5 separate regions of the Homo sapiens genome follow, and regions 1, 3, 4 and 5 are each linked to region 2. Evidence: fine-mapped expression QTL. A gene starts in region 2. Each other region holds a variant in brackets. All regions are shown on one strand. Distances are between the middles of the regions. Region 1 has its middle 16 kb from the start of SDR9C7. Region 2 holds the start of STAT6 (signal transducer and activator of transcription 6). Region 3 holds the start of R3HDM2 (R3H domain containing 2). Region 4 has its middle 4.7 kb from the start of NEMP1. Region 5 overlaps LOC124902945 (a long non-coding RNA gene).

Region 1 (6,188 bases), 190 kb before region 2:
ACCTATGAATGCTATCAAATAGTCAGTAAAGGTTAAGATTCAGCATCCAGCAACAGCCTTCAGCTATACTGGGGCCTTCAGGTTCACGGATAAAGGAAGAAAGAATAACAAAAAGCAAGGGACCAAAAGTAAGCAGGGCAGGCAGACCTGATCAAATTGCAAACTAAGCCCTTGGTTTCAGATTGTCACCTGCCAGGTTTTTTGTTTGTTTGTTTTTTGTTTTTGGGACAGGGTCTCACTCTGTTGCCGAGACTGGAATGCAGGGATGTGATCTTGGCTTACTGCAGCCTCAAACTCCTGGGCTCAGGTGATCCTCCCACCTCAGCCTCCTGAGTAGCTGGAACTACAGGTGCATGCCACCACTACACCCAGTTAATTTTTATATTTTTTGTAGAGTAGGGATTTTGCCATGTTGCCCAGGCTGGTCTTCAACTCCTGAGCTCAAGCAATCTGTCTGCCTCAGTCTCCCAAAGTGCTGGTATTACAGGTGTGAGCCACCTGTAATCCCACCTGCGCCTGGCCACCTGCCAAGTATTTTTGAAGGTCGGCTCCAATGACAGCCAGTTCTAACTTCGGTCTGTTGAGAAAGCTAGGAGACGTGTGGCTGGGAACCACCCAAGGATGTGTCGCTATGAAGAGGAAACTAATCTCAGACCCCTAATCAGGGCCCATAATTAGGGCCAAATTATGGGGCCAGCTAGGGCTCACCCATCACCTGTCTCTCAAGAGAAAAGGTGACAGAGCCACATGCAAGGATTTCTCCTTCACTTCAGTAAAAAGAGAAATTCAGATCTTTCCTTACTTGGCAAAATTAAAAAGAAGAGTTGGCATTTCTCTCTTTATACACAATGCCCTCTCATAGTTCACCTAAGTAAAGTCTCAATTCTGCCTTCAAAAATTGTCCACTTGTAGTGCATTTTCATCTCCCAGTTGAAGCTCGTCCTTGACTGTTAAATATGCACACCCAATTTTTTCATTCCTCCCCCCTCATGTTCCATGTCAGAAATTCTAAAAGGAAGTTTTTAAAAAATTTTTTAATTTTTTTTTAAGATGAAGACTTGCTCTGTTGCCCAGGCTGGATGCAGTGATGTAATCATAGCTCACTGCAGCCTTGACCTCCTGGCCTAAAGTGACCCGCCCACCTCAGCCTCCTGAGTAACTAGGACTACAGGTATGTGCCACTCTGCCCAGCTAATTAAAAAAAAAAAAAAATTACTTTTTGTAGAGACAAGGGTCTCACTATGTTGCCCAGGCTGATCTCAAACTCCCGGCCTCAAGTACTACTCCCACCTCAGCCTCCCAAAGCACTAGGTTTACAGGTGTTAATCATCATGCTTGGCTTCAAAGGAACACCTTGTTGTTCTGTTAAAAAGTTTAGCCTAAAGCTCCTCCTTACATATATTAAGTCTGGGATACAGTTTTCTCTGTATAATGAACTGTAACCTAATTGGCTGTGAAAACAGACTGTACCAATCACTGAGTTTCAGTCAATCAAAGGAGGCCAACTGTTCAAACTGTTCAAATAAGGCAAATGCCCACTGAGCTATTACCATTCTGGCTGTTTCTGTACCTCACTTCATTTTCTGTACATCACTTTCCTTTTTCTCTCCGTAACTTTTCTTCCAGGATTGAAGTCTCTCTGAACCTATTTTGGTTCCAGGGTTGCCTGATTCTCAAATTGTTCTTTGCTCAATCAAACTCTGTTCAATGTAATTTGGCTCAGATTTTTCTTCTAACAGCTCCAAGTTTGGCATTAAAATCCTCTGTTTCCATTTGCTCTGGTGTAGAGGCAGTATTTACACTGCTCCTGTATAAGAACATGCCAAACATGCTAGCCAGGCAGGAGCTCAATGATCCCCATGTTCCTCTGAATTCTTCTTTCCTCTCACTTGCGCTTACTATTTCTTTTCTTTTCTTTCTTTTTTTTTTCTTTTGAGACATGGTCTTACCCTCTTGCCCAAGCTAGAGTGCAGTGGCATGATCATGGCTCACTGCAGTCTCAACCTCCTGGGCTCAAGCAATGCTCCCACCTCAGCCTCCCAGGTAGCTGGGACTATAGGTGCTCGCCACTATGACTGGATAACTTTTTATATTTTTTTGTAGAGATGGGGGTCTTGCCATGTTGCCCAGGCTGGTCTGGCACTCCTGGGCTCAAGTGATCTGTCCATGTGCAGGCATGAGCCACTGCACCCAGCTCTCCTCACCTTTTGTTTGAGGTTCACTGGAGACCGGGGAACTTTCTGAGATTCTGAAATTTCTGAGAAAGGCAGGCATGTCCCGCAGGAAAGGAAGAAGCCCCTGGAGGACAGAGGCCCCTGTCTTCACGGGGAACAAATTGGAGGAGAGGCCCCCAAATAAGGCAAGTTAGGAGAGGTTTCAGAAAGTTCTTGGAAACAGAAGCAAGCCACATTACAGCTGCTGGCCAGAAAACCCTGCTGCAAATGCATGTGTACAGAGATGCTCCCCAGGATGAAATAAAGCAATGACAAACAATTAAATAATAGCATTACAGAACTCAAAGAATCTGCTCTGCCAGATGCTTATAGGCTATGTATTATAATCACCCTCTCTGGGCCTCAGTTTCCTCTCATTAAAACTGGAGTAATAACACCTTTCAGGATTGTTATGAAAATTAAGGTGCTGAAACAACAGATGCTGGTAAGGCTGTGGAGAAATCGGAACAATTTTACATTGTTGGTAAGAGTGTAAATTAGTTCAACCATTGTGGAAGACAGTGTAAGACAGTGTGGCGATTCCTCAAGGATCCAGAACCAGAAATAGCATTTGACCCAGCAATCCCATTCCTGGGTATATACCCAAAGGATGATAAATCATTCTACTATAAAGACACATGCACACATATGTTTACTGCACCACTACTTAACAATAGCAAAGACTTGGAACCAACCCAAATGCCCATCAATGATAGACTGGATAAAGAAAATGTGGCACGTATGCGCAATGGAATACTATGCAGCCATAAAAAATGAGATCATGTCCTTACACGTTATACAAAAATTAATTCAAGATGGATTAAAGACTTACATGTTAGACATAAAACCATAAAAACCCTAGAAGAAAACCTAGGCATTACCATTCAGGACAGAGGCATGGGCAAGGACTTCATGTCTAAAACACCAAAAGCAATGGCAACAAAAGCCAAAATTGACAAATGGGATCGAATTAAACTAAAGAGCTTCTGCACAGCAAAAGAAACTACCATCAGAGTGAACGGGCAATCTACAAAATGGGAGAAAATTTTCGCAACCTACTCATCTGACAAAGGGCTAATATCCAGAATCTACAATGAACTCAAACAAATTTACAAGAAAAAAACAAACA[A/T]CCCCATCAAAAAGTGGGTGAAGGATATGAACAGACACTTCTCAAAAGAAGACATTTATGCATCCAAAAGACACATTAAAAAATGCTCATCATCACTGGCCATCAGAGAAATGCAAATCAAAACCACAGTGAGATACCATCTCACACCAGTTAGAATGGCGATCATTAACAAGTCAGGAAACAACAGGTGCTGGAGAGGATGTGGAGAAATAGGAACACTTTTACACTGTTGGTGGGACTGTAAACTAGTTCAACCATTGTGGAAGTCAGTGTGGCGATTCCTCAGGGATCTAGAACTAGAAATACCATTTGAGCCAGCCATCCCATTACTGGGTATATACCCAAAGGATTATAAATCATGCTGCTGTAAAGACACATGCACACTTATATTTATTGCGGCACTATTCACAATAGCAAAGACTTGGAACCAACCCAAATGTCCAACAACGATAGACTGGATTAAGAAAATGTGGCACATATACACCATGGAATACTATGCAGCCATAAAAAATGAAGAGTTCATGTCCTTTGTAGGGACATGGATGAAACTGGAAACCATCATTCTCAGCAAACTACCGCAAGGACAAAAAACCAAACACCACATGTTCTCACTCATAGGTGGGAATTGAACAATGAGAACACATGGACACAGGAAGGGGAACATCACACTTCGGGGACTGTTGTGGGGTGGGGGGAGGGGAGAGGGATAGCATTGGGAGATATACCTAATGCTAGATGGCGAGTTGGTGGGTGCAGCACACCAACATGGCACATGTATACATATGTAACAAGCCTGCACGTTGTGCACGTGTACCCTAAAACTTAAAGTATAATAATAATAAAATTTTAAAAAAATGAGATCATGTCCTTTGCAGGGACATGGATGAAGCTGGAAGCCATCATTATCAGCAAACTAACACAGGAAGAGAAAACCAAACACTGCATGTTCTCACTCATAAGTGGGAGTTGAACAATGAGAACACATGGACACAGGGAGGGGAACATCACACATTGGGGCCTGTCTGAGGGTAAGGGGCTAGGGGAGGGAGAGCATTAGGACAAATACCTAATGTATGCAGGGCTTAAAACCTGGATGATGGGTTAATAGGTACAGCAAACCACCATGGCACATGTATACCTATGTAACAAACCTGCAGGTTCTGCACATGTATCACAGAACTTAAAGTAAAATAAAAAATTAAAAAAAAGAAAATTAAAGTGCTTAGAACAGTGTCTGGCATGTGGTGAGCACTCTGGAAGTGCTTGCTATTGTAGCATGTGGCGAACCGCACTCTGACTCTGCCATTTATTAGCAGTGTAATCTTGTGCAAATTACTTTACCTCTGTGAGCCTCAGTTTCCTCCTCTATAACATAGGAGTAACCTCACAGGACTTGTTGCAGAGATTAAATAAAATTGAATGGATAATATGTGGGAAATTCTAAGCGCAGTGCTTGGACTGAATAAATGTCCAATAAATGCCAGTTATTTTTATTTCTATTATTTTATTGTCACACTTCTCTTATCAGGTCTAGACTTGCACCTCTTCAATCCAGTTCTTCCAATTCATTCCCCAATGGCAGCAAAAGTGGTCTTTTTAAAAAGTAAGCAGTCTCAAAATGAATCTATAGTGACAGAAACACATCAGTGGTTGTCTGGAACCAGGGTGGAGAGGAGGGATGATTAACTGCAGACAGGTACAAGGGAACTTTCTAGGATGAGAAAAATGTTTTATATTTTGACTGGTGGTGGTTGTACAGGTGTAAACATGTGACAAGACTCATCAGATGGTACACTTAGATGGATGCATTTCTTTTTATGCAAACTTTACCTCATTAATGTTGATTAGAAAAAAAGGTAAGCAGCCTCCCTGGTCATCTATTACATTGTTATATTTTCTCTTCTCCATGGCACTTATCAGTATATAAAATTATTTCATTCACTTTTTATATGTCTATTGGCCAACCCCTCCCTCCGTTAGAATGTAAACTCTTTGAGGGCAAGGACTCTGTCTTATACCCCACTATAACTCTAGAATCTGGAACCACATTTAGCACATAGTAGGAGCCTGATAAATTCTTCTTGACAGACTGACTAATGATTAAAGTCCATCAATGGTTCTACCTCCAAATTATATATTGACTTCATCTATTAGCATCATTTCTGCTAACACCATTTCAGCTTAGGGCACTATCATCTCTTGCCTGGATTATGCAATGGCCTCCTTTCTTCCACCATTGCTTCTTCATTTCAGTCTCCACAGAGCCCCCCAGTGATCTTTTAAAAATATAGATCAGATCACATTACTCCCCTACTTTAAAAATGGAGATAAAAATGATTAAGAAGCTGAATAAATGAACAAGAAAAGGCAATTCAAAACTCCAGGAAAATACAAAAGTTATATAAGAAAGGTGATGGTTCTAATATGAAATCAACCAAAATGTAACTCTGGAGCATATATGAATCTCAGCTCATAAGTTCAAAAAATACCTCAGCTATTAATGATGAGGTGGAGAGATGGCCCTCAGACCAAAAAATTAAGTCTTCTATCTTCTAAAGGTTACCACTTTAGTGTCTGCTGTTCCAGTCTACATGCCCTTTATATCTAGCAAATTTCTACTACCTTCCTGCCATGGTGGGACACATGAGTCTCCTGTGAGGTCATCTGAAGTCGAATCTGCCTAAACATACAATGTAGCTGTGACTCTCTTGAGTCTTGTCACCTCCCCATGGTGTGCCCCCAAGGTGCTCTAGAAAGTGGGCCCTGGTCCCTCCTGTCCTGGGAACCCCAAACATCAACTTCTTATCTCATCAGAGTGAATCTCTTTGTCATAGGGGAAAGTCTCT
Region 2 (6,188 bases):
TTTTTAAAGCGGTAGGCAATGTCAGCTTTTAATCTGTGGAATCTCAATTACATAAAAGGTACGAAACCGAAGATGCCCTGTTGAAAGCAAGCATGGAAAGCCTGAAACTCGACTGCTTCTACTTCCCTCTCCCCACCTCCTGACGCCAAAGGCATCCCTAGACAAACCTCTCAAAATTCTAGGACTCCATGAGATAATTTGAAAACCACAAGGCTCGGCCAGGCGCAGTGGCTCATGCCTGTAATCCCAGCGCTTTGGGAGGCCGAGGCGGGCAGATCACGAGGTCAGGAGATCAAGACCATCCTGGCTAACACAGTGAAACCCCATCTCTACTAAAAATACAAAAACAAAATTAGCAGGGCGTGGTGGCGAGCGCCTGTAGTCCCAGCTACTGGGGAGGCTGAGGTGACAGAATGGCGTGAACCTGGGGGGCGGAGCTTGCAGTGAGCAGAGATCGAGCCACTGCACTCCAGCCTGGGCGACAGAGAGAGACTCTGCCTCAAAATAAATAAATAAATAAATGAAATAAAATAAAAATGAAAACCACAAGGCTAGATGATGAAGAGGATGGGAGAGTAATAACAGCTACTATTTGTTAAGCACTTACTGTGTATGAGGCATTACACTCAGTGTATTATCTCCTTCAGGCCTCACGACACTTTTTAAAATATATAATATCCCATTTTATAGATGAAGAAACTGAGGCTTAAGGAGTTTCTCTACTCTGCCCAAGGCCACTCAGTAAGTGAGTTTGGAAAGCAGGCTTTGAATCTGAGTGGGGATTAACCATCGCACTGTGTTGTTAGGATCCCTTCCAGGGGCAAATCTGATCATCCTAAGAAGTGGGGGAAGGTGGGAGGAGACTTGAAGGAGGAGAGGTGGAAAAGGAAAGTAGAGAGAACTAAGGAAGAGGATGGAAGAGACTGGAAAAAAGGCGGGTTTAGTAAGCTAGGAGGAAAGAGCCTAGAAGAGAGAGGAAGCTGGAGGGCTAGAAGGCAAAGATGAGAGACGAAAACAGGTAGAAAGGAGAGGAGGGGACAGGGAAGTAGAAGAGGGGGTTGCATCCCCATTTCCAGGTTCAGGGAGGACTGGGTAACCAGTGGTTTCCCAGGGGCCTCTCAGTTCACGTTTCTCATAATATCCCTCTCCCAGAGATGAGGGAGAGGATGGGATGACAACTCCCCAGGTCTCCCCAAACCCAGTAACCCCAAGTCCTCCTGTTGCACGTTCAGCCTCTCACCTCTCCCAGGCCTCTCAGAGGGATGGAAAATGGAGAGGTCCCTTCTCTGGACGTTTCTGCTCCAAGACCTTCATGCCCCTCTTTCCTCCAGTGCCCACTTACCCCAGCTCTTTTCTCCTCAAGGCAGAATCCTTACCCCTCCTGCTCAGGTTCCTCCAATAGGCCTTTCTCTAGCCCAAGAGAGAAAGGTCCTCTGGAGTGAGTGGGCACCGCTTTCCTCTGCATCCCCTTGCAGAGTGACCAGCCTCCTGGCATGGCCCTGGCTAGAAATATCCAACCCCTCTTCTTCCCCAGCCATCAGGAGGACACATTTCTCCCCACCCCAACCCATAACAAGGCTGGGTCGATTGGCTTGACCAGGACAGGGGCACCTTTTGTCTTCAGCCCCTTGAAGGGGAAGGGAGGGAGGAGCCACGGCGTGAGGGGCGGGGCCAGTGTTACCTCCCAAACTCAGAAGGGAAGCGCAAGGTCTGGGATCCTCGTCCGCCCGCTTGGTGGCCTAAACTCGCTTATCTCAACCCCTATCTGCCCGAGTCCTCTGATTGTGGGACCACAGGATCGAAAGTTAAAACAGCTTCTCTGAGTTGCCCAATGCGTGAATGTGGCGGTGGGGGCAGGCGGGGAGGTGGAGCCAGTTCAGCACGAGGAGGGTTAACTCGGCGCCGCCGCTGGGAAATCTCAGCGTCTACAGCAGCCAAGCGTGGAGCAGTTTTGAGGGGGAAATTCCCCCTCGTCTGGGCCACCATGAGGTCTACATCTGGGGCTTGCTCACGCCCCAGCCACACCCTTGAACAGGAACCTTTAGTGGAGGGCAGGATAGGGGTTTAACAAGGATCCACTGCCCTCTGGCATCAACCTTCCAGGGAGGGGCGGCCACTTCCCCCGACTCAGGGCAGAGGGGCACTCCTTCACCTCCTTTCCCTGACTTTCCATGGCCCTGGGGGTGCAGGGGTGAGGCTGTGAAAACGTGACCCATGGGGGAGGGGAGTACTGAGGCCTGGACCCTCCCAGATTCCTCCAGGAGTTCGAAACTGCTAAAACCCAGTGCCACCAGCCACCAACACTAGCTGAAACCATCTCTTGGGGACCATCCACCCAGCCAGGGGAGGATCCCGAGAGCTCCCCCCACGAATCCACCCCCATGCACTCATAGAGGCCCCCGCACCCACCTCGGAGGCAACCCCTCACCTCGGCAACCCCTCTGCTGTCTTCTCCCTTTCTCAGCGGGCACTTCCAGGCCCCATAGGTCTGTAGCTCTGTCCAGCGAGTTCAAGGCTGGCCCTGCTAGCACCTCCCCCCTTCCACCACCACCACCAAAAAGAAAAATAAGATAAAGCACACACATACATACACACACACACACACACACACACACACACTCCTCTCCCGTCCTCCCTCTTCAGTGTAAGCAGTGGCTGCCCCAGCCCGCTGTTTCCGGCTTCTCCTTCTACCCAGGTCCCTCCCTGGAGCTCTGACGACACAGAGAAGAGAAAGTGGGCTGGAGGAGGAAGAGGAAGAAAGTGGGGTGAATATGTGTGCCTCCTGTGCCGAGTGGGGGAACACGTGGGGGATCAGGACTGGGGTCCAGGCCTTGGAGCCAGGCTTGGGGGGAGGCTGACCCCCACTTACTCTGTCCCCCTCAAAAGCATCAGCTTTTCTCCAGAAAGTCACCCAATATCAAACAGAGATTTGCCACCCCTAACTGCCTGGCTCCCAAACTCAAACTCTGCCAAGGGCTGGGGTTTGGACCCACAAGGGACTGGGCTCCCCAGGGCCTCAGGAAAAGTAAATCCCTCTGGACTCTGCGCTCCCTCCAGTGGAGGACCCTAAAAAGCCGCCAGGGAGCTCGATGCCAGCCAACTCCTAGGTCCCCCTCCCTTCCGGCAGGGAACGCCTTAGAGGTCGGTCTCGTGACCACTGACGGGAGGGAGTGGGGGAGGGGAACCCTCAGCTCAGAATTCTGGAAGACTCTAGGAGTCCCTTGGACTGAAGCTGGTCTTTGCTCTCTCCTCACAGGGCACCCCTCCTGAGACTGTGGTGGGAACCAGCACAAGCCGGAGCTGCTGCCTGCAGATTCACAAGGGGCAAGTTTGAATACGAATCTGCTGTGTTCCTATCTGCCAAGTTCCTATATGTTTCTGGGGTAAACACTGAGACACGCCAAGAAACAAACACACACATGCACAACTTCCCTGACCACAAGACTACACACACACACACACACACACACACACACACGTGCAGGCAGGCTCACAAACAGAGCCCATTGCAATCACAACACCACACACACACACACACACACACACACACACACACACACACAGTCTTGCTCAACTTCTGAGTCATCAACATAACTAGTGGAGGGTTCTGCAGTTTTTGCTGGGGGAGGAGCTGGAGGAGACCAAGGGATCCAGAGAGGCCTTTACTCCCGGACACCTGAGAGCCCCGGTGTGTGGAAGAGGTGGTGTCTGAGGGGCGGTGGGAGGAAGTTTCTACTCCCCTCCTCCCTCCCATAGCAGGGGCTGGGCTGAGGGGCCAAAGCTAGGCCTATGCTGCCCCCTGGTGCCTGAATTGATTTCCAGAACCAGCTCCTCCTCCTCCATCCCTTGCTACCCCGCAGGTCTGTACATGAGTGCACGTGTGTGGACCCAGCCAGGCAGCAGAGGGTTTGAACACAGCAAAATATAGCAGTTAAAAGACTGGACTGTGGATACAGGCTGCTTGGGTTCAAATCCTGCTAATGCTGCTAACCACACAACCCTGAGCAATTTACTCTGTGATTCATTCTCGTCATCTGTAAAATGGAGCAAATAAGTCTTAACCCATAATGTGAGAATAAAATGCAGTAAAACATCTGAAGGCTTAGAACAATGCCTGACACACAGTAACTGTCAGGCACTATTTTTATGGTTCATAATAAACCAGGTATGAGGAAAGGAGAAGGGTCTCCATCCTACATAGAAGTCCCCAGATTTGGGGGTCATGTTACTGCCAAAAGGATATTGAGGGTGTATGTGCGTATGTGTTTGCTGTGTCTGCAGGACAGTGAATGGAAGAGAAGGGAGAGCAGGGGTGGAGGTGGCAGGCAGGGACTCTGTCCATTGGCTTGTCCAACAAGCCATGCTAGGATCAAGGTGTGTGCACATACGTGTTCACGGCACACGTGCTTTGTATGTGCTCCCGAGTGCCCACTCTGCCTGCAGACATCCACAGACAGTAGGTGAAGCCAGGTTTCACCATCTAAGGGTGTCAGAGCTACAAGTCCCCAAAGACTTGGAGAGGAGGAGGGAAAAGAGTAAATGTGATCTCTGACTTTGGCTCCTTTTAGGGGGTAGGAAGGCGAGGAGCAAGTACTGGTAGAAAAATAGTATATATTACTCCCTCTGTAACTGACTATACCAATGGGAACACTGTGATGTAAGGGGAAAAAACAGAATTTAGAGGCAAATCTGGCTTGGGTATGACTCCATTTAGGAGGTTCACAATCAGGTGTCAATCCCTCAAATGAGAATAATAGTTATACCTACTTCAACAGAGTCTAGGCTAGGGTAAAGTGCCTAGAGTATGAAATTTAAGGAGATACTCATCTTCAGATTGTACAATTGCAGGGTCTGTCAGACCTTCATTAATGACATCTGCACCTGCATGACTGTGAGGGTGACTGTATCACCCTCCCCTGGACCTTGACATCCCATTGAGTGGTGGTAAAGATTGCACAAGAGAGGCTCACGCCTGTAATCCCAGCACTTTGGGAGGCTGAGGCAGGCAGATCACAAGGTCAGGAGATTGAGACCATCCTGGCCAACATGGTGAAACCCCGTCTCTACTAAAAATACAAAAAATTAGTCGGGCGTGGTGGTGCGCGCCTGTAGTCCCAGCTACTCAGGAGGCTGAGGCAGGGAAATCACTTGAATCTGGAAGGCAGAGATTATAGTGAGCCGAGATCAAGCCACTGCACTCCAGCCTGGTGACAGAACAAGACTCCGTCACACACACACACACACACACACACACACACACACACACACACACGATTGCACAAGATAAAGCGTAAGGAAAAAATAACTTTATGTCTATGTACTGCTGGTTACAACCCAATAGTGAGTCACAAAATCGATTTGGTGAGTGTATCAGTTTGCTAGGGCTGCTGTAACAAAGTACTACATATTGCATGACTTAAACAACAGAAATCTCTCAAGATGCTGGAGGCTAGAAGTCCAAGATCAAGGTTAACCTGAGCAGGATTGATTGATTCCTTCTCAGGGATGTGAAGGAAGGCTCTATTCCAGGCCTCCCTCCTTGGCCATTTTCACGTTCACACACTGTTCTCTTTGTATGCAAGTCAGTCTCCAAGTTTCCCCTTTTTTCAAGGATACCAGTCATATTGCATTAGGCCCCATCCTAATGGCCTCATTTTAACTTAATTACCTCTGTAAAGACCCTATAAGGGGGTCCTTCAAAATAAGGTCACGTCCTGAAGTACTTGAGATTAGGACTTCAAGAGAATTTTTGAGGAACACAACTCAGCCCATAACAGCATCTTGATCAAGCACAATGGCTCACACCTGTAATCCCAATACTCTGGGAGGCTGAGGCAGGAGGATTGCTGGAGGCCAGGAGTTCGAGACCAGCCTGGGCAACATAGCAAGATCCCATCTCTACAAAAAAAATTTAAAACAAAATTAAAAACAAAACATAAAAAAAAACAGTGTCTTGACCTTCACTCTTTGAAACTGAAGTAAAGGCCAGGCGCAGAGGCTCATGCCTGTAATCCTAGCACTTTGGGAGGCCGAGGTGTGCGGATCATCTGAGGTTAGGAGTTCAAGACCAGCCTGGCCAACATGGTGAAGCCCCGTCTCTACTAAAAAATACAAAAAATTATCTGGGCACAGTGGCATGTGCCTGCAATCCCAGCTACCTGGGAAGCTGAAGCAGGAAAATCACTGGA
Region 3 (6,188 bases), 320 kb after region 2:
CCTTGAATCCAGGAGGCAGAGGTTGCAGTGAGCCAAGATCACACCATTGCACTCCAGCTTGGGCGACAGAGCGAGACTCCATCTCAAAAAAATAAATTAATTAATTAATTAAGGAAAGATAAAATGAGGGATAACCCACAGAATTTAGGGTGCCTGCTCCTTTTTATCCTCAAACTTAGCATAGATTTAGTTGCTAAAAATGCCCCCCAAAATCAATCTGTGAAAAAAGGATCAAGTGTTCTCTAGAACTGAACATTCTACCATTGTTAGAGAAACCTATTCTTAAAGTTTTTAAGCTCAACTGTCTCTACATGAATTGGTGGGGTTGAGGGTAGGAACTAGCCCATAAAGACAGAACTATAAATATTAACATCTTCAGGCTACTGAAAACTCAAAGTGGAACCAGCCTGCTCAGCTAGGTAGGGTCAGAGAAGTAACGAGTGATATTTGTCTTGGAAGGGACATGAACAAACCTCAAGGGAAGAGCATGAAGTAGGTAAAAATTCTAGCCACAATAAATCTGAGATAAGACTACCAATACCAAAGACTTCCACACTCCATCCTCTTCTCTGCCCTCAGAGTATTTTCATTCAATGGCCCCAAAGCACGAGATGTTTGTCCAAAGAGAAACATCCCCAGAAAAAACATCTCAACATCTCTCAATGAGTACCTTAGAAAACCAGGTTTTCCTAGTGAAAACCCATCCCACCCTTCCAAGGACAACTAATCACGATGAAAAATTCATGGAAAGAGTTCAAGGAAAAAACTCCTCCTTACCTACTCAGTCAATAAATCTGTTGTGCACTTTACTGAACATCAAGTGCTGTGCTAAGTGCTGAGGATACGGAAATTAATAAAACAAAAATGTGGCTGGGCACAGAGGCTCACGCCTACAATCCCAGCACTTTGGGAGGCCGAGGCAGGAGGATCACCAGGTCAGGAGTTCAAGACCAGCCTGACCAACACGGTGAAACACCATCTCTACTAAAAATACAAAAATTAGTTGGACGTGGTGGCGCGTGCCTGTAATCCTAGCTACTCAGGAGGCTGAGGCAGGACAATCACTTGAACCCGGGAGGTGGAGGTTGCAGTGAGCTGACATCGTGCCACTGCACTCCAGCCTGGGCGACAGACAGAGGTTCTGTCTCAAAAAAAATAAATAAATAATAATAAAATAAAATAAATAAAACAAAAATGCCTGCTCTCCTGAAGCTTTTTTTTTTTTGAGACAAAGTCTCAGTCTGTTGCCCAGGCTGGAGTGCAGTGGCACGATCTCAGCTCACTGCAACCTCAGCCTCCCAGGTTCAAGCCACTCTCCTGCCTCAGCCTCCCAAGTAGCTGGGACTACAGGCGTGTACCACCACACCCAGCTAATTTTTGTATTTTTAGTAGAGATGGGGTTTCACCATGTTGGCCAGGCTGGTCTCGAACTTCTAACCTCTGGTGATGCCCCGTCCTTGGCCTCCCAAAGTGCTGGGACTATAGGTGTGAGCCACTGCGCCTGGCCCTGAAGCTTTCTACTAGGGGAGATTAAAATATATAATACGTTATAGGTTGATAAGGGTTAAGGCAGAAAATAAAGCAGAAAAGGGGGATAGAGAGTTATGTAAATGTGTATGCAGGAGGGGCTTTGCCATCCAGATAGCCAAGGGAATATCAGTGTTAAGAGTGACATTTGGGCCAGGCGCAGTGGCTCACACCTGTAATCCCTACACTTTGGGATTACACTTTGGGAGGTGGAGGTGGGTGGATCACTTAGGGTCAGGAGTTGAAGACCAGCCTGGCCAACATATAGTGAAACCCTGTGTGTACTAAAAATACAAAAAAATTAGCCAGGCATGGTGGCAGGCACCTGTAATCCCAGCTACTCAGGGGGCTGAGGCAGGAGAATCGCTTGAACCCAGGAGGTAGAGGTTGCAGTGAGCCGAGATCATGCCACTGCACTCCAGCCTGGGTGACAGAGCGAGACTCCATCTCAAAAAAAAAAAAGAGTGAAATTTGAGTAAAGACCTGAAGGAGATGAGGGGACAGACAGGCTATGCTCTTACACAGCTTTGTAAGAGAAAAGTAACTCAGGAAGAGGAAACAAGAGCATAGACCCTGAGGCAGAAGTGTGCCTAGTGTGCTCAAGGAACAGCCAGAGGCCAGTGTGCATGTTAGGGGAAAAGGGTGCCACAGATCTAGAGCTTTAAAGCTAAGATTGGTTTGGCTGGGCGCGGTGGCTCATGCCTGTAATCCCAGCACTTTGGGAGGCCGAGGTGGGCAGATCACGAGGTCAGGAGATCGAGACCATCCTGGCTAACACAGTGAAACCCGTCTCTACTAAAAATACAAAACATTAGCCGGGTATGGTGGGGGGTGTGGTGGGGGGCGTGGTGGGGGGGCACCTGTAGTCCCAGCTACCCAGGAGGCTGAGGCAGGAGAATGGCATTTACCCAGGAGACAGAGCTTGCAGTGAGCCGAGATTGCACCACTGCGCTCCACCCTGGGTGACATAGCGAGAAAGAACAACAACAACAAAAAGTAACATTGGTTTTTATTTTGAAAGAGAAAGGAAGCCATCTCCTGTCTTAATTTTCCATTAAAAAATATTAGGCATGCTATTATTTTTTTTTTTTTTTTGAGACAGTCTCTCGCTCTGTTGCCTAGGCTGGAGTACAGTGGCACGATCTTGGCTTACTGCAAAATCCGCCTCCTGGGTTCAAATGATTCTCCCACCTCAGCCTGCCAAGAAGCTGAGATTACAGGTGCCTGCCACCACGCCTGGCTACTTTTTGTATTTTTAGTAGAGACGGGGTTCCACCATGTTGGCCAGGCTGGTCTCAAACTCCTGACCTCAGGTGATCCACCTGCCTTCGCCTCCCAAAGTGCTGCGATTACAGCATGAGCCACCGTGCCCGGCCAGTCAGGCATGCTATTTTTATTTGTCAAATTTTTTTAAAACTTTACATTGTGAAGCTCTGCCAAGAGCAATGGCTCACGCCTGTAATCCCAGTGCTTTTGGGAGTCTGAGGCCAGAGGATCACTTGAGGCCAGGAGTTCAAAACCAGCCTGGGCAACATAGCAAGATCCCATCCCTAC[G/GA]AAAAAAAAATTGTGAAGCTCTACTAATCATATAATGGACACAAAGACAAATGGAACTTCAACTCTGAAATTTAACTTGTTAGGAGTTCATCAGGCCTTCAAGAAAAAAGTTATCTTTTCTCTCAACTCTCTGGAGAACAGCAACAGGGTAAGAAAAATACAACTAAAAACTGAACTGAATTAATCTAACCGGCCACTTTTCACCACTATTTAAACTTTTTGTCTTTCCCGGCGCGGTGGCTCAAGCCTACCACTTTGGGAGGCCAAGGCAGGTGGATCACTTGAGCCCAGGAGTTCCAGACCAGCCTGGGCAGCAAGGTGAAACCCGTCTCTACAAAAATCAGCCAGGAGTGGTGGCTCATGCCTGTACTCCCAGCTACTTGGGGGACTGAGGTAGGAGGACGGCTTGAGGCCAGGAGGCAGAGGTTGCATTGAGCCGAAAAGGAACCACTACACTCCATTCTGGGTGACAGACTGAGACCCTGTCTCAAAAAACAAAATACAACCTTTTGTCTTGATACCCCAGCAACAAAAAGGGGGGCGGGGGTGGGGGGGGAATATTGGTGGAACAACAACAAAAAAAAGCATTAGGAAGAAGAGCCACAAATAATTCAACTGCAAATCTATCTAAAAATACAAGAAAATGCTAGGAATTTGTGATATTCCTGAAGTGAAACCTGTCACTTTCCTCCTTCCTTGAGTCTCCACGTGGCTTACGCATATCAGACAGGACTCAGGCTTCTCAATCTTAGTTATCTATTTGAACAACATTATGTACAAGGATATTCATCCAACTGGGATCTGAATTCAAACTTTTCCACTTTTCTTTCTTCCGTTTTAACGCAGTTCTGGGATTGTTATTCGGTCATTTCTCATCATTATCCAATGACAATTCACTCTAAGTCAGTATTCCTGGTAGTTCCGAGACTTAATGGCCACAAATGTTGAAAAATGTTAGCTCTACGGGAAAACGAATCGAAGCGTTTTCAGGGGCTCGAGTAGTTATGAGCTTAGTGTAGGCCCAAGTTTTAAGCTATAGAAACATCTCCCTGTATGTGCCAACTCAAATCCCCGTCCCTGTAAGAAACCTGGACACCAGCATGATTTTAAACACTTCTACACCTCTCCGTCCTATTTTTCCATGCTCCACGCTCGAAGGAAAACCGCCACCCAAGAAACACACGGAGCTAGCCACCCCGAAGCACTGGAAGGGCGCAATAGTTTTTAGGTCACCCCGCAAAGGCCACAGGTGGCGCCACCCCCCTGCCCCCGCACCGCCGCCCTCCGCCCCGCGCCCCCAGCTTCTCTCCAGCAGCGCACACTTGGAGCAGTCCTTCCCGCGGCCATCCGACCCTGACCCATCGTCCCCGGGACCGGCTGCCGGGCGCGAGGAACCCAGGCCGCGGGGCCTCCTCGCGCCCGCCCGTGCGGCCGCCACGCCCCCTCCCCACAGGCCGTCCGGGCCGCCCGCCCCCTCGGCCGGGAGGTGGCCTCACCTCGCACGGGCCTTGGCGGGGAGGGCGCCCACGTCTCCGCCCGCCGCCCGGGCCCACGGCCGCTCGGCTGCGGCTCGGCCCCGACGGCCGGCGGCGGCGCGCTTCTGGGGGCGGGCTTTTCTCGGCCGGGGCTTCCCCGGGGCCGAGGGCTGGGAAGCAGGGGGGACTGGGACGGGGGAGGGGAAAGGGGCTTGGGAAGGAGGGGGGAGAGGGGAAGAAAAGGGGGGAACCAAACCCGGAAAGGGAGAAAAGGGGGGAGGGGAAAATCAGAAGGGGAAGAAAAGCCCAGAGTCCGCCCCCCGCTGCGGCTGCGCGCTACGTCACTACGTCCGGCGTTGTCGTCACCTCGTCCTGCGTTCCGGCCGTCCCTGCTTCCTGGCTTCCCGCGTGCCCCTCAGCAGCCCTGCGGGGCCTACCGCCTGCCGCACGCACTCCCGCCGGCGCGCGCGCACTCGCACTCGCTCGCTCGCCCTCTCCTCCTTCCGCGTTACCTGTGTCAGGACACCAATCCGGAGTCACTGGGAGCCTCGGTCCTCCTTAAACCCTTCAAGTCTGTCAGATAGAATACCCTGGATTTCAATATAATACTAATAGTGATCATTCTAAAGTAATTTCCATTTACAGAGCACTTTCACTTAGGGCAGTAACTCCTGTACCAAAAGAACGTACACTCGGTATTTGTTGCATACGTGGATAACTATAGTTGAGCAGGTAAATGTCCATTTTACGTAAAGATGAAAAAAACCGACCTAGGAGGAACTCAGTCTGTCCTATTAAGATCACATTCTTACCATCATCCCCTCTCTAAGATACAGTTCTCAAAAATCGTCTTAAATGTCCAGCCTCCCCCGTTTTGTCCATTCTAGGCAGAATCAATTTAGTTATTGATTATGTGTGTGTGGATAATTTACTGACCAAACTCCCTCAAAGAAGCAATGTAGTCTTTTGTAGAATTCGACCATTAAATATTTACCTTGTGACAGAAACTGCGGTAGGCAAAAAAAGTCAAATAATTATAGTACAATTTAAGTGCTATAATAGAAAGGTTTAAATGTGCTATGGAAACACAAGGAACAGCAATTCGTTCTTAGCGGTAAAAGAGATTGAGTAAGTTACAGAGAAACTACAGGTGAAACTCCAGCTAATCTTGAGACTATAAATAGTTCACTAGAGAGGTAAGAATGGAGATTCCAGCAAAGTCATAGAGGCATGAAGTTCATCTTTCCTTCAAGGATGAGCAAGTTCCAGGTTGGTTGGCGTTTTTTGTTTGTTTGTTTGTTTGTTTTATTTATTTTGAGATGGGGTCTCGCTTTGTCACCCAGGCAACTAGATTGCAGTGGTGCAATGTCGGTTCACTACAACCTTCACCTCTCAGGTTCAAGTGATTCTCCTGCCTCAGCGTCCGGAGTAGCTGGGACTACAGGCACGCACCATCACACCCGGCTATTTTTTGTATTTTTAGTAGAGACGGGGTTTTGCCATGTTGGCCAGGCTAATCTCGAACTCCTGGCCTCAGGTGATCCACCCGCCTCGGCCTTCCAAAGTTCTGGGATTACAGGTGTGAGCCACCTTGCCCAGCCCTCTCTCCTGGTCATCACTGCCTCCTGCCCC
Region 4 (6,188 bases), 28 kb before region 2:
ACCAGCCTGGCCAACATGGCAAAACCCCGTCTCTACTAAAAATACAAAAATTAGCCAGGCATGGTGGTAGGTGGCTGTAAGCCCAGCTACTCAGGAGGCTGAGGCAGGAGAATCCCTTGAACCCAGGAGGCGGAGGCTGCAGTGAGCCAAGATCGCCCCATTGCACTCCAGACTGGGTGACAGAGCAAGACTCTGTCTCAAAAGAGAAAAAAAAAAAAAGTCAAAATGGGCTGGGCATGGTGGCTCATGCCTGTAATCCCAGCACTTTTGGGAGGTTGAGGTGGGAGGATCACTTGAGGCCAGAAGTTCGAGACCAGCCTGGCCAACACAGCAAAACCCTATCTCTAATAAAAATACAAAAATTAGCCCAGCATGGTGGCAGGTTCCTGTAATCCCAGCTACTTAGGAGTCTGAGACAGAAGAATTGCTTGAGCCCAGGAGGCAGAGGTTGCAGTGAGCCGAGATCATGCCACTTCACTCCAGCCTGGGTGACAGAGCGAGCCTCTCTTGTCTCAAAAAAAAAAAAAAAAAGTCAAAATGGGGCTGAGCTATGGGCAAGAGAAGAGATTTCATTCTCAGAAGGAAAAGTCTAGGCCAACAGTGCTGATATGGTCATCCTGTATTTCACACACACACTCCCTCAGCTGACCTAGGGAAGTCAGCATCAATCATGTTGATACTATGTACCCTTGATAACATGAGATGAAAATGGCATTTTAACTCTGTGGTTTTCCTTCCCAAAACCCATAACACCACTCTAATCTTGAGAAAAACATTAGACAAATTCCAATAGAGGCATCCTACAAAATACCTGACCAGTACTCCTCAAAGCTGTCAAAGTCATCCAAACATCATTATGGGCTTTTTTGTTTTTGTTTTTTGAGACAGAGTTTCACTCTTGTTGAGCAGGCTGGAGTGCAATGGCACAAACTTGGCTCACCGCAACCTCCCCCTCCCAGGTTCAAGCGATTCTCCTGCCTCAGCCTCCCAAGTAGCTGGGATTACAGGTGTGTGCCACCCCGCCCAGCTAATTTCATATTTTTAGTAGAGATGGGGTTTCTCCATGTTGGTCAAGCTGGTCTTGAACTCCCGACCTCAGGTGATTTGCCCGCCTCGGCCTCCCGAAGTGCTGGGATTACAGGCATGAGCCACCATGCCCAGCCCATTATGTTTTTGAGAACTAAACATAATGTGGTGGTCTAGATGGGATCCTGGAACAGAAAAACACATTAGTTTAAAAAAACGAGGCTGGGCACGGTGGCTCATGCCTGTAATCCCAGCACTTTGGGAGGCTGAGGCGGGCGGATCATGAGGTCAGGAGATGGAGACCATCCTGGCTAACATGGTGAAACCCCGTCTCTACTAAAAATAAAAAAAATTAGTCGGGCGTGGTGGCAGGTACCTGTAGTCCCAGCTACTCAGGAGGCTGAGGCAGGAGAGTGGTGTGAACCTGGGAGGCGGAACTTGCAGTGAGCTGAGATCGCTCCACTGCACTCCAGCCTGGGCGACAGAGCAAGACTCCGTCTCAAAAAATAAGAAAACAAAAAAAAACACGGAGGCTGAGCATGGTGGCTCACGCCTGTAATCCCAGCACTTTGGGAGGCCAAGGCGGGCGAATCACGAGATCAGGAGTTCAAGACCAGCCTGGCCACCATAGTGAAACCCCGTCTCTACTAAAAATACAAAAATTAGCTGGGCGTATGGCGGGCACCTGTAAACCCAGCTACTCAGGAGGCTGAGGCAGGAGAATCACTTGAACCTGGGAGGCGGAGGTTGCAGCAGTGAGCCAAGATCAGTGCCACTGCACTCCAGCCCGGTGACAGAGTAAGACTCAGTCTAAACAACAACAACAACAACAAAAACTCAAAGGAAATCTGAATAAACTGTAGACTTTAGTTAATAATAATGTTTCAATACTGTTTCATTAATGGTGCTAAATGTACCATACTAATGTCAGATAATAATTGAGGAAATTGAATGTAGGGTATATAGGAATTCACCATATTATCTTTTCAATTTTTCTGTACATGTAATGTTTCTAAAAATAAAGTTGGCTAGCCTCAGTGGTTCACACCTGTGATCCCAGCACTTTAGGAGACCGGGTCTGAGGATGGCTTGAGCCCAGGAATTCAAGACCAGCCTGGGCAACATAGTAGGACTCTGTCTTTACAAAAATACAAAAATTAGCCAAGTGTGTTGGCACGTGCCTGTAGTCCCAGCTGCTCAGGAGGCTGAGATGGGACGATCACTTGAGTCTGGGAGGTTGAGCCTGCAGTGAGCCATGATCATGCCTCTGCACTCCACCCTGGGTGACAGAGTAAGACCTTGTTGCTAAAAAAATGAATAAATTGGGCAGGTGCAGTGGCTCATGCCTGTAATCCCAATGTCTTGGGAGGCCGAGGCAGGTGGATCACTTGAGCCTAGGAGTTTGAGACCAGCCTGGGCAACATAGTGAAACCCCGTCTCTACAAAGAATACAAAAAAAAAAAAAATTAGCCAGGTGTGGTGGCATGCACCTGTGGTCCCAGCTACTTGGGAGGTTGACGTGGGAGAATCACCTGAGCCTGGGAAGTCAAGACTGCAATGAGCTGTGATTGCACCACTGTGCAGCCTAGGTGACAGAGTGAGACCCTGTCTCAAAATAAATAAATAAAATAAAATAAAGGCTAATATATATGTATAGATATGTATATGTATTTTTTTATGTGTAGGTATATATACACATATATATACACATACTTCATTTTTTTTTATCAGGCCCCATTCTCATCATTCAGAGCTTGCTCTTTGGTTTTCACTAAAGCAAATCCAGGGGAACTAATTTCAGAAGATCACTGACCACTGACTATTAAAATATATAAATGAAGTGTATGGTAATGAGACTGGCTGTCCATAAACACATTACAACTTATCATCCAAATGAGTGCTGTCATTTCAAGATAGTCATTCAAGAAGCTTTTAGCTTTGTTTTAATGAGGACACTGCTCAAAACAACAAGAATCTCCTTCAGAGTCTATAACACACAATGCAATGAATATTCATTATCTGCAGGTGGATTGGATTTATGCAAATAGCCAAAAGAACTCAGGCCAACACTGATGAGTAAATGGGGTGGGAAATCTGGATGGTTAATGTGTTTCAAAATTTTTTGGATTTTTGAAAGATAGTATGGTGCATATACAAAATATAAAGCAACAATCCCAATGCATCAGGACAGCACCCAGTAATCAAACAAATTAATATTTCTGGAATGACACATATGACTTCATACTGTGGTAAGTGAAAGATGGAAAAGTGAAAACTATAAATAACCTTATGTAAGTTTAGGTCAGGTTCTGCCACAAAATAAATTCAGTTCAGATTAGGTTTTATTGTCAAATATGTTATGAAAAAGATTTTGTTTTTGTTTTTGAGACGGAGTTTTGCTTTTATCGCCCAGGCCAGAGTGCAATGGCGTGATCTCAGCTTGCTGCAACTTCTGCTTCCCAGGTTCAAGCGATTCTCATGCCTCCACCTCCCGAGTAGCTGGGATTACAGGCGCCCGCCACCACGCCCAGTTAATTTTTGTTTTCTT[CTGTTT/C]TGTTTTGTTTTGTTTTGTTTTGAGACCGAGTCTCACTCTGTCACCCAGGCTGGAGTGCGATGGCGCGATCTCGGCTCACTGCAACTTCTGCTTCCCAGGTTCAAGCGATTCTCGTGCCTCCACCTCCCGAGTAGCTGGGATTACAGGCATGCGCCACCACGCCCAGGTAATTTTTGTATTTTTAGTAGAGACGGGGTTTCGCTATGTTGGCCGGCTTGTCTTGGACTCCTGACCTCAGGTGATCCACCCACCTCAGCCTCCCAAAGTGCTGAGATTAAGGGCATAAACCACAGTACCCGGTCAAGCTTTTGGTTTTCATAATTTTTTTAAATTTAGGAATTGTGGATAAAGGATTTGCAGGCCACGAATATTTGATGAAGGCTATTCCAGAGTTTTGAGAAGGAACACTCCATTCCACATACTCAGTCACCCAAGCTAGGAGCCTGAGAGTCACCCTAAACCCTCATTCTCTCCTCTCAACCCCTCAGCCAATCAATCAAGTCCTGTCGATCTTATTTTCTATATTTTGAATCTGTTCTTTCCCCCCATGCCAGTGCCTTGCCATCTTTCAACTGAGAGGGTCCTTCAGTATTTTTCAAGCTGACCTTCCTACTGTTTTTGCAGCCATAAATCCTTCCTCCACTCTGCTCCTAAGTGCAGATCTGACCATGCCATGAGTCTTTGTTTCCAGAGTCTTTATGGTTCCAGTAACACCACAGGATGAAGTCCAACATCCTTAGTATGATCTAAAACTCAGAGGCAAAGACACAAATAACTATAATAATGTTATTCAATGTTTGTCACCAATCTGTAATGAAACAATTTCAGAAATTAAGTGTAAGCATTTAGAAAGTTTTATAGGAATTTGACAGAGAAATTTTATATTTATTGAATCTAACAAAATGGTAGTTTATTTTGTTTTTTGAATAATTCATTTTTAGTGCATTCTACAAAAGTAGTGGACAATAATAGATTGGAAATGTTTTAAAAATTGGTCCTTAACCATACTTTGAAAAGCACTGGTCCAAAATATTTTTAATGTAATGTACCTGTACACCTCCCTAGGCTCGTTTCTAACCAGCTCCACCCACCACCCAGCAATAATGAACAACCTTTTATAGTTTCTGAAACATATCACTCTGTTTCATACCTCCACCTCCATGGAAATGCACTTTCTGGCCTCTCTGACTTGACTTCCCTTCCTCCTAGAATTTTTGTTTTTGTTTTTGTTTTTTGTTTTTGAGACTCACTTTTTGCTCTGTGGTGCAGGGATGCAGTGGCGCCATCAAGGCTCACTGCAGCCTTCAACTTCTGGGCTCAAATGTTCCTCCCACCTCAGCCTCCTGAAGTGCTATGATTACAGGTGTGAGCCACCGCCCTGGCCACTCCTGGAAATCTCATACTGACTGCATCATCACCTCCTTTGGATGCCTGTCTAAACCAAGGCCCCTCACAACTCCAAGCAGAACAGATCACTCACCCTCTTATACTTCTGTCATTGTTGTACCCATATTATTGCACTATGTTGTAATTATTCGTTTATAGGTCTATTTCCCCTATTAGTCTGTGAGCTCCTTAAAGGCAGTGGTTAGGATTATCTGTCTTTCAGGAGTGAAACATTTCTTGTAAAATAACTAACTTGAAGGACAACATTCCTTAGATGATAAATTCTGCCATGTTACTGAAAGAGAAAAAAGGGATCATTACTTTATACTTTTCTATTACCAGCCAGGACTTCGGCCTACTACCTTTAGCATCTGAGTGTGAATTAATTTACCAGAATGGTGGACATTTTAGAAGGCCAAGGAGCCAGATTTGTGGGACTCACTGGAAACTTTACAAGGGAAAGAGATATGGAAAACAAATGTCTTCACTTAAACAGTTTTGCCCAGGCTCAGCCCCTTTGGGAGTAAAATCTGTGTCATGTGCCCTTTCAAAGTTGCACAGGCCTGTGAATAGGATCAATTTATTCATTTCAGAGGGTCCACCAGATAACAGGCCTATCCTGGAGAGGTCCTGGATTTCGGCTGAAACAAGCAACTATAATTGGAAATGTGTACAAAGAGCAATGAGGAGGCCACCGAGGGGTGGGAGGAATTAATTCTGCCTGGAGGAGTGGAAGGGGTCCAGGAAGGAGAGGGTGAGCCAAACCTTGCTGAGTGAGTCGGATCTGGCCCAGTGGAGACGTTGGGGGAGGAGTGAGCAGAGCAATCTGCTAGATGAAAATCTACACGTGCGCGTAGGGACGACAGTCTCTGCACTCCTCTTCCGCCCACTTTCCTCCCTTTCCTCGCAATCGTTTCCCCTTTTCTTGGAAAACTAGGACTGAGGATACTGTTTCCCTTCACGGAGGAGACCAGCACAGATAAAAGAATATTAATCCTTTTTATCACGAGATCAGTTCCTCTGGTCTGTCTTTGAGAGCACTGGGGATGGGGAGAGCAGGTGAGTCAGGCACAGAAGTGGTCCTTCTTTGAGTGAGCCAAGGGGACACAGGGGAGAACAGGTCCCATGCAGGAAACAAATGAAAATTTTTGTATTTGTCCCCACTCCCTTTTTGTCACCACTCCCCCCCCCCCACACACACACCTGTCTCTTTATGTTTTTC
Region 5 (6,188 bases), 130 kb before region 2:
TAAAGTAAGGGCCGGTCACTGAGGGCCACAGAGAGGGCACAGGTGAGGGGAGGAGGCTTCAGTTGCCCCAGGGAAGGGACCTGGGGCCTGCCAGTGCCTTATTGACATCTCCTTGCTGGCTTGTCCTTAGGTCTATTTCTGTGACAGGGGTAACCTATTTCTCTCCCCATGATACATCGCCCCTTATGGCATACCCCAAATCCATGAAAACATGCACCTGAGTCTTGGCTTCACAGGCCCTTGGCCAGCCTTGGAGAACCTAGTGGAGCATGGCATCCGCCAGGAAGGTAGACATGTAGGTCATGGGGAGGTAGAGAAGCTTGGTGTCCCAGCCAGCTGTGTAGCAAGTGCAGGGGTGGCAGGCGGTCAGCACATGCTCCATGCAGTCAGTCACCAATGATAGATTTGTATTGCATTTTGACCAAAGGCTCCTAGGTGCTTTTCTGAGGCCTGTTCAGAATGAGAAAACATCCTTAATGTACTAGCACATCCCTCCCCTCCCATTTAGAGCTCTGAATTGGAAGGAGAGTGTCTAAGAATCCCTGGGCCCCTCAATGATATGCCTCAAGTCTAATCCACCCATATTCCCCAGGGAGTGCCCCAACCCTCACTGCAGCAAAACCTGTTCCACACTAAGCCCCCTCTGCCTCTCTTCCTGAGATATCTGGACTGCATAAATTGAAGGTCTCTACTAACAGCCTAAGAACATGAAAATCAGCTGTCTCTAAACCCAGCTGCCCATGAGCCCACAGGTGTCCACCCTCTCTGGCTTTAGTTTCCTCTTCAAAATAACGAGAGGTTCAGATTAGCCAGTGGTTTCAATTATAGGAGCTTCAATTCTTCTTTTAGGTGACCAGTTGACCACACAGCTAAATGGACTAAATGTCCTCACTTTGTTGGGGAGGCAGAGTTTGGAGGACAGATTCTCATACTGTTGGAGGCACTAATGATGGACCCAGACTTCTAGACAAGGATTTCTTTATCTCCCCACTGTCCACAGCTCACTCACGGGATATCAGAAACTTCTCCCCATACGTCTCCTTGACCTCGGGGCTGGCCTAGTCCGACAGCTCCTTGAGGTTCTGTAAATGCCTCTCAGAGCCGGCCATACTGGTCCTGAAGTGACCAGGTTCAATCACAGACACCTTCACTCCAAAGTGGGAGAGCTCCCTCCTGCATGGCAGACATGCAGAAGGGCAAGGACTTAAGAAATTTTGGGAGGCAAAATACAAAAAACAAAGAAACCCAATACAAACCCAGCATGCAACGACAGTGGGAGATGCAAGAAAGCTTGGAGAGTTGGGAAGGGCAGCAGATAGCAGATAAAAGTTATGATGGTGGCCTTGCCTCTCTCTGGGGTTTCCATATTTTACATACCAAAGCTTACTAGCCCTAAGTCCTACCAGTTCAAGAGCAAGGCAGCATCTCAGTGCTATCACCTCCTATGCCCCTCACATCCAATGGATCACCAGAATTCCCACATTCTACCTCCTCTGCAGTCCTCAGTCCCCTCCCTTCTTCTCCTGCCCCAGGAATCTCCCTGGCCTCTGAGCTGGGTGATGGCAGCTGTCCTCTAAGGAGCGTCCCTCTGCCTTCAGTCTGGCTCCCCACACTCACAGCCACTGGGCTCCCTGCAGTAAGTGGGTGTCTAGAAGCCGATTAGACCAAAGAGCTCCCCTGAGCAAATCCCTTTTTTGGGGGTTCCACTGCCAACAGTATGAGGCACAGCTCCTGTCCAGGGCCTCCACGAGCCCATATGCGCCCACCTGCCCAGCCTCCTCCACAGGCCTGGCCCTGTGCTTCACCTCATGAGGACCCCACAGCACAGGCAGGCAGCTGAGGCTCCCCCTAGGCCTGGGCTGAAGACAAAAGTCATTCCCCCATTTCTGTCCAAGGCTGCCAGGTGGGGATCCTCAATCTCCAGCTCAGACCCCATCTCCAGGAGCTTCCCCAATCCAGGAGGCTGCCATGGCCACCAGGGCTGACTGGGTCACAACCCCTTTGAGAACTGGCAACAATGGTTCTGGCTCTCTTGCTCCTCTCTCAGGTGTCAGAGCTTTTAGGTCAGGGCCAAAACCCTGTTGCTGTCCTGGGCTGAGTTTATTGGGCACTCATCCAAGGGCCTAAAAAGTCTGTTGTATGGACTAAGATGCTCACCCCATGTCTCCTAGGCTCCCTGCAACTGCATGTCACAGTGGCTTCATTCTGGGCTCTGGAGCCAAACATGTCAGTTCCAGTCTGCCTCAGACATTTTCTGCCTATGGGACCCCCTCAATAGGGTCAAAGGTGAGTTACAGGAACTGTTTGGTCTGGGGCCCCTCCCTCCCCAGAACATGGAGAAGCTGTTCCCAAGAAGTGGCTGGCTAAATCCATAAGGGCAACAGCACACACAGGATGAGAGAGAGGGATCTCAATAAGGGGCCTCTAAGGCTACAATTACATAAAACTACTGCAAATGGTTCCCACAGAAGAACAGGTGCAGGAGGATGAGGGAGGGCCCTGTCCCAGGCCAATACCAGAGGGAGTCGGAGAAGGCCTCCACGCTGTACTTGGAGATGCAGTAGCCTGCACCAAAAAGTGAAACCCGGCCTGCGATGCTGGAGAGGTTGACCATGCAGCCCCTGGCCTTCCTCATTAGGGCAGCAGGATCAGAGTCACATCAATCATCCCCAACAGGTTCATGTCCAGTTCCATCACAAAGTTGGTCACTTTGTGACCAACAGGTCACAAAGTCCTGTTCCATCAAC[T/C]ACTCATTGCAGCTGGAGGGCAGGCAGATGCCAGAGTTATTCACCAGGCCCCAGAGTCCTGGGATGGCCAGAAGATGAGAGCATCACTCTTGTGTTTGTGCAGGTGGACACAGTTAGGGTGCAAGTTCATTTTCTAGTTCAATGTATTTATTGAGTCAACAAGTGTGCTACATGGAATAAGGGAAAGGAGTGGAGGAGAGGAAACAAGGATGGGGAGGCTTCAGAGTTTCAAGGTTTGCACCCATTTCAAGGTATTGGGGGGTGAGGGGTGGTCCTTCCCATCTCTGCTCCTAGTGCCTGGCACCCAGCATGCAGTAAAGCCAATGCTGTGAAGTGCATGGACAGAACTTGAGAAAACAGAATGAGGGTCCAACAAATATCTCTCCAGGGGAGAGAGACAGAGACAGGAAATAGGAAGACAGGAATGGGCTAAGACAGAGAAACCAAGGGGAAAGGACAGAAGAGAAAAAGAAAAAGGAAAGAATAAGAAAAACACATGAGTAATTACTTTCTGCATCCTGTTTAGGAGAGATACACTTAAATCCTAAGACTAGGGGAAGTTAGAGAGCAGGCCTGCACTGGGCATCAGGGGACAAGCTGTGCTACAACCTGCATCAATGTCAAGGCAATATCTGTCCTGGAAGAAAAGGTCACCTTGTGTACCTGGGAATCCCAAAGCTCACTGTGGACTGAATGGCCAGAGCAGGAGGGGAGGAGGGAAAGAGGTCTCATGCCACACAGGTGTCCAGACTGCACTCTCTGCCCCAGGAAGTACCACCTTTTCCTCCCACCATCTCATAAGGCCACCTCTGCCCTATCCCCATAGGGTCCAGCAAGCTTTGGGGAAGACTCTACAGAAGACATAGGGGAGCAAACTAATAGCATGAAAGATCTGGAGTAGTCAGAGCTACAGAACTACGGACTCCAGGCCAGCAGGGGCAGGGGTGTGAGTGGGTGAGGGCTGGGGGGTACAGGAGACGGAGACTGACCCTAGGAATATTGGAAAAACAATAAGGCCTGCAATGGTGGCCCTTCCCCTACTCAGAAACCTTTCCTGGACTTGAAGGAATGAGGATTCTTTGATTCAATAGTTGTACTTTTCTTGAATAGCACTGCTAAGCCTGTCAACAAACCTTGGTAGAGAATCGCTACTGAGATGTTATTTATGCCAGGAAAAGTGGGTAACAAACTTCGGCATTCAACAATATAGAATCCCTTTAACAAATTATGGCCTCTCCACATGCTGGAATATGGAGACCTTGATTGTTATGTTGGGGAAGAAACTTGATGATGAAAATGCTGACCCCAGAATGTGTAAAGTAGAGGGAAATTAACCCTGGAGGCTGGGATTAGGGGGAATGTTGTTTCACTCTCATCCTCTTCTATGATTTCTCCAATGAGAAATCCTATCTTATCCTCCTATCTATCCAATCTTATCCTCTTCTATAATTTCTTCATGTTTTCCATTTACAATCAGAACAAAGCAATCAATGATCTCCCTTTCCCCAAAAGGAACAGGATTCATCACTCGGTGTTTGATGTGAAGTCCCTTCAGCTCTCCAAGCCCCAGTGTCCTCGTGAATCAAGCGGAGATCATCTTAAAGCCCTCAACAGGGACAAGTGTGAAGGAACCAGTAAGAGAATGCTGAGATCAGAAGCCTGGATCCTGCCCAGCCCCATCCCCGATGGTCTCATGCCAACCGTCAGGACCCAACGTTATCCAGAGACTGGGCTCTAACCACAGCCTGGACTCCTCTAACCCTGGGCCCAGCCACAACCACTCTAGGACTTCTGCTTTGGAAAACAGAAAGCTCAAGCCCCCGAAAATAAAAGTCCTGGAAATGTTCCCAGTTAGCAGACACTAGGTCTCCCCTAGTGACACAGAGAGAAGAGAAACAAACAGGCACTAGGAGGGATTGAGGTGGTCCCTCTGTCCCCCACACACTCCTTCACCCACTGGGCAGCTGCAGCAATGCTCTCTGTCTTGGTGATGTCCATGGTCACCGTCTCCAGCCTGTCTGAAGTCTGGCCCCTCAGCTGCTTGGTCCCCTTCTCTGTCCTACATGCAGCTCCCGCAAGCCTGTGCATTCAGTTGTCTGGCCAGTAGCTTCCTGAAGCGTGAGTCACAGCTCATGATGAACACGTACTTGTCTCTCAGGTGACTCACCACCTGCCTCTCCCAGTACCAGTGCAGAAGGTAGTATAGGCCCAGGAGGACCGCCAGGTAGAGCCACATGGCTTTGCAGAGGACAGACCCAGACGGGCTGGGGTGAAGTGAGAGTCTGGCCTCTGTTCAGACAGGAGGACTTAAGAACACAGAGGGCTGAGGTAGGCAGGGAAGCCCTCAGGCATTTTGGCAGAAAGTCCTCACTTTCCTCTCTGATCACTGTCTTTCTGCACCATTTTTTATCCTGGCTTCATCTCTCTGCTCTTTCAACTGCCTTTGCAGGTGTTCATGCATGCAACTGCAAACCCCAAGCTCTGCCCAGTGAGTAGTTATCACTACTCAGCAATGCTTCCCTAGTCCACCAATGCCTCTCTGCCTTGCTGTGCCTACTCAGGTGTCCACACAGGGGCCCACACACACACACCATGAAACACACCACTCTGATCTACAAACAAGGGTCAGAACTTGTCTCTACATATCTTGTGATATGGTTTGGATATTTGTGCCACCAAAATTGCATGTTGAAATGCGTTCCCCAATATTGGAGGCAGGAGCTGGTGGGAGGTGTTGGGTCATGGTAGTGGATCCCTCATGGCTTGGTGCTGTCCTGGAGACACTGGAATGAGTTGTGATGGGATCTGGTTGTTTAAAAGTGTGGCACCTCCCCAGCTCTCTCTTTCTTGCTCCCACTTGCCATGTGACAAATCAGCTCCCCCTTTGACTTCTGCAGTGATTATAAGCTTCCTGATGCCTCACCAGGAGCCAAGCAGATGCATGCTTGTACAGCCTGCAGAACCATGAGCCAATTAAACCTGTTTTCTTTATAAATTACCCAGTCTCAGGTATTTATTATAGCAACACAAGAACGGCCTAACACACATTGTATACCAACACTCCTGGACCATGGTCTCCCAGAAAACAGACTTTACTGGGAAGCTACACATGGTTTCCAGGCACATTCAGTGGAAATCCTGCTCTGAGCCTGAGTTTCCTCATCCCACCCAGCATCCAGAATCAATCACTCCCCAGAAAAGTAGGGCACGATCAGGCTCTCTAGGATGAGAAGGAGAAGGCAAAAAAGTGAACAAGAGCAAGTCCCCTCCTGCTACAGTAGTTTTCTGGGGCAGAAAGATGTGGAACACCCACAGGGAGAGTCCAACCTCACAGGTAAAGAAAGGGGAAAGAAGGGAATGGAGCCTTGGAACCCACAGGAAGGAAGTACCCAGGGCTGCTGGGAAGGGGAATGGAATGACTTATGCAGGTGTCACAGGGCT

What was found. PIP is the estimated chance that this variant, and not a neighbour inherited with it, causes the effect.
Region 1: its variant is fine-mapped to the expression of STAT6 in whole blood (TOPMed, PIP above 0.99).
Region 3: its variant is fine-mapped to the expression of STAT6 in whole blood (INTERVAL, PIP 0.96).
Region 4: its variant is fine-mapped to the expression of STAT6 in whole blood (INTERVAL, PIP above 0.99).
Region 5: its variant is fine-mapped to the expression of STAT6 in whole blood (INTERVAL, PIP 0.92).

What each region holds. Positions count from the first base shown.
Region 1 is chr12:56,915,362-56,921,549 of GRCh38, forward strand. No RefSeq gene overlaps it. Among named protein-coding and RNA genes, the nearest start is that of SDR9C7, 16 kb to the right of the region's middle. The variant A/T (reference allele first, on the strand shown) is at 3,343.
Region 2 is chr12:57,108,701-57,114,888 of GRCh38, forward strand. STAT6 (signal transducer and activator of transcription 6) reads right to left here and starts at 2,662. Exons shown (of 22, transcript NM_003153.5): 1 at 2,429-2,662. LOC124902946 (a long non-coding RNA gene) reads left to right here and starts at 2,022. Exons shown (of 2, transcript XR_007063334.1): 1 at 2,022-3,141; 2 at 3,257-4,179. RefSeq lists enhancers at 1,788-2,735, 2,736-3,681 and a silencer at 3,721-3,880.
Region 3 is chr12:57,426,143-57,432,330 of GRCh38, forward strand. It overlaps R3HDM2 (R3H domain containing 2), which reads right to left and starts at 4,901. Exons shown (of 24, transcript NM_001394031.1): 1 at 4,578-4,901. R3HDM2-DT (R3HDM2 divergent transcript) reads left to right here and starts at 4,974. Exons shown (of 2, transcript NR_185976.1): 1 at 4,974-5,288. RefSeq lists an enhancer at 4,043-4,152 and a silencer at 4,333-4,802. The variant G/GA (reference allele first, on the strand shown) is at 3,082.
Region 4 is chr12:57,080,380-57,086,567 of GRCh38, forward strand. It overlaps a transcript of NEMP1 not described here. Among named protein-coding and RNA genes, the nearest start is that of NEMP1, 4.7 kb to the left of the region's middle. The variant CTGTTT/C (reference allele first, on the strand shown) is at 3,575.
Region 5 is chr12:56,980,978-56,987,165 of GRCh38, forward strand. It overlaps LOC124902945 (a long non-coding RNA gene), which reads right to left. Exons shown (of 4, transcript XR_007063333.1): 3 at 218-450. It also overlaps the pseudogene LOC390332. Among named protein-coding and RNA genes, the nearest start is that of ACKR5, 10 kb to the right of the region's middle. The variant T/C (reference allele first, on the strand shown) is at 2,748.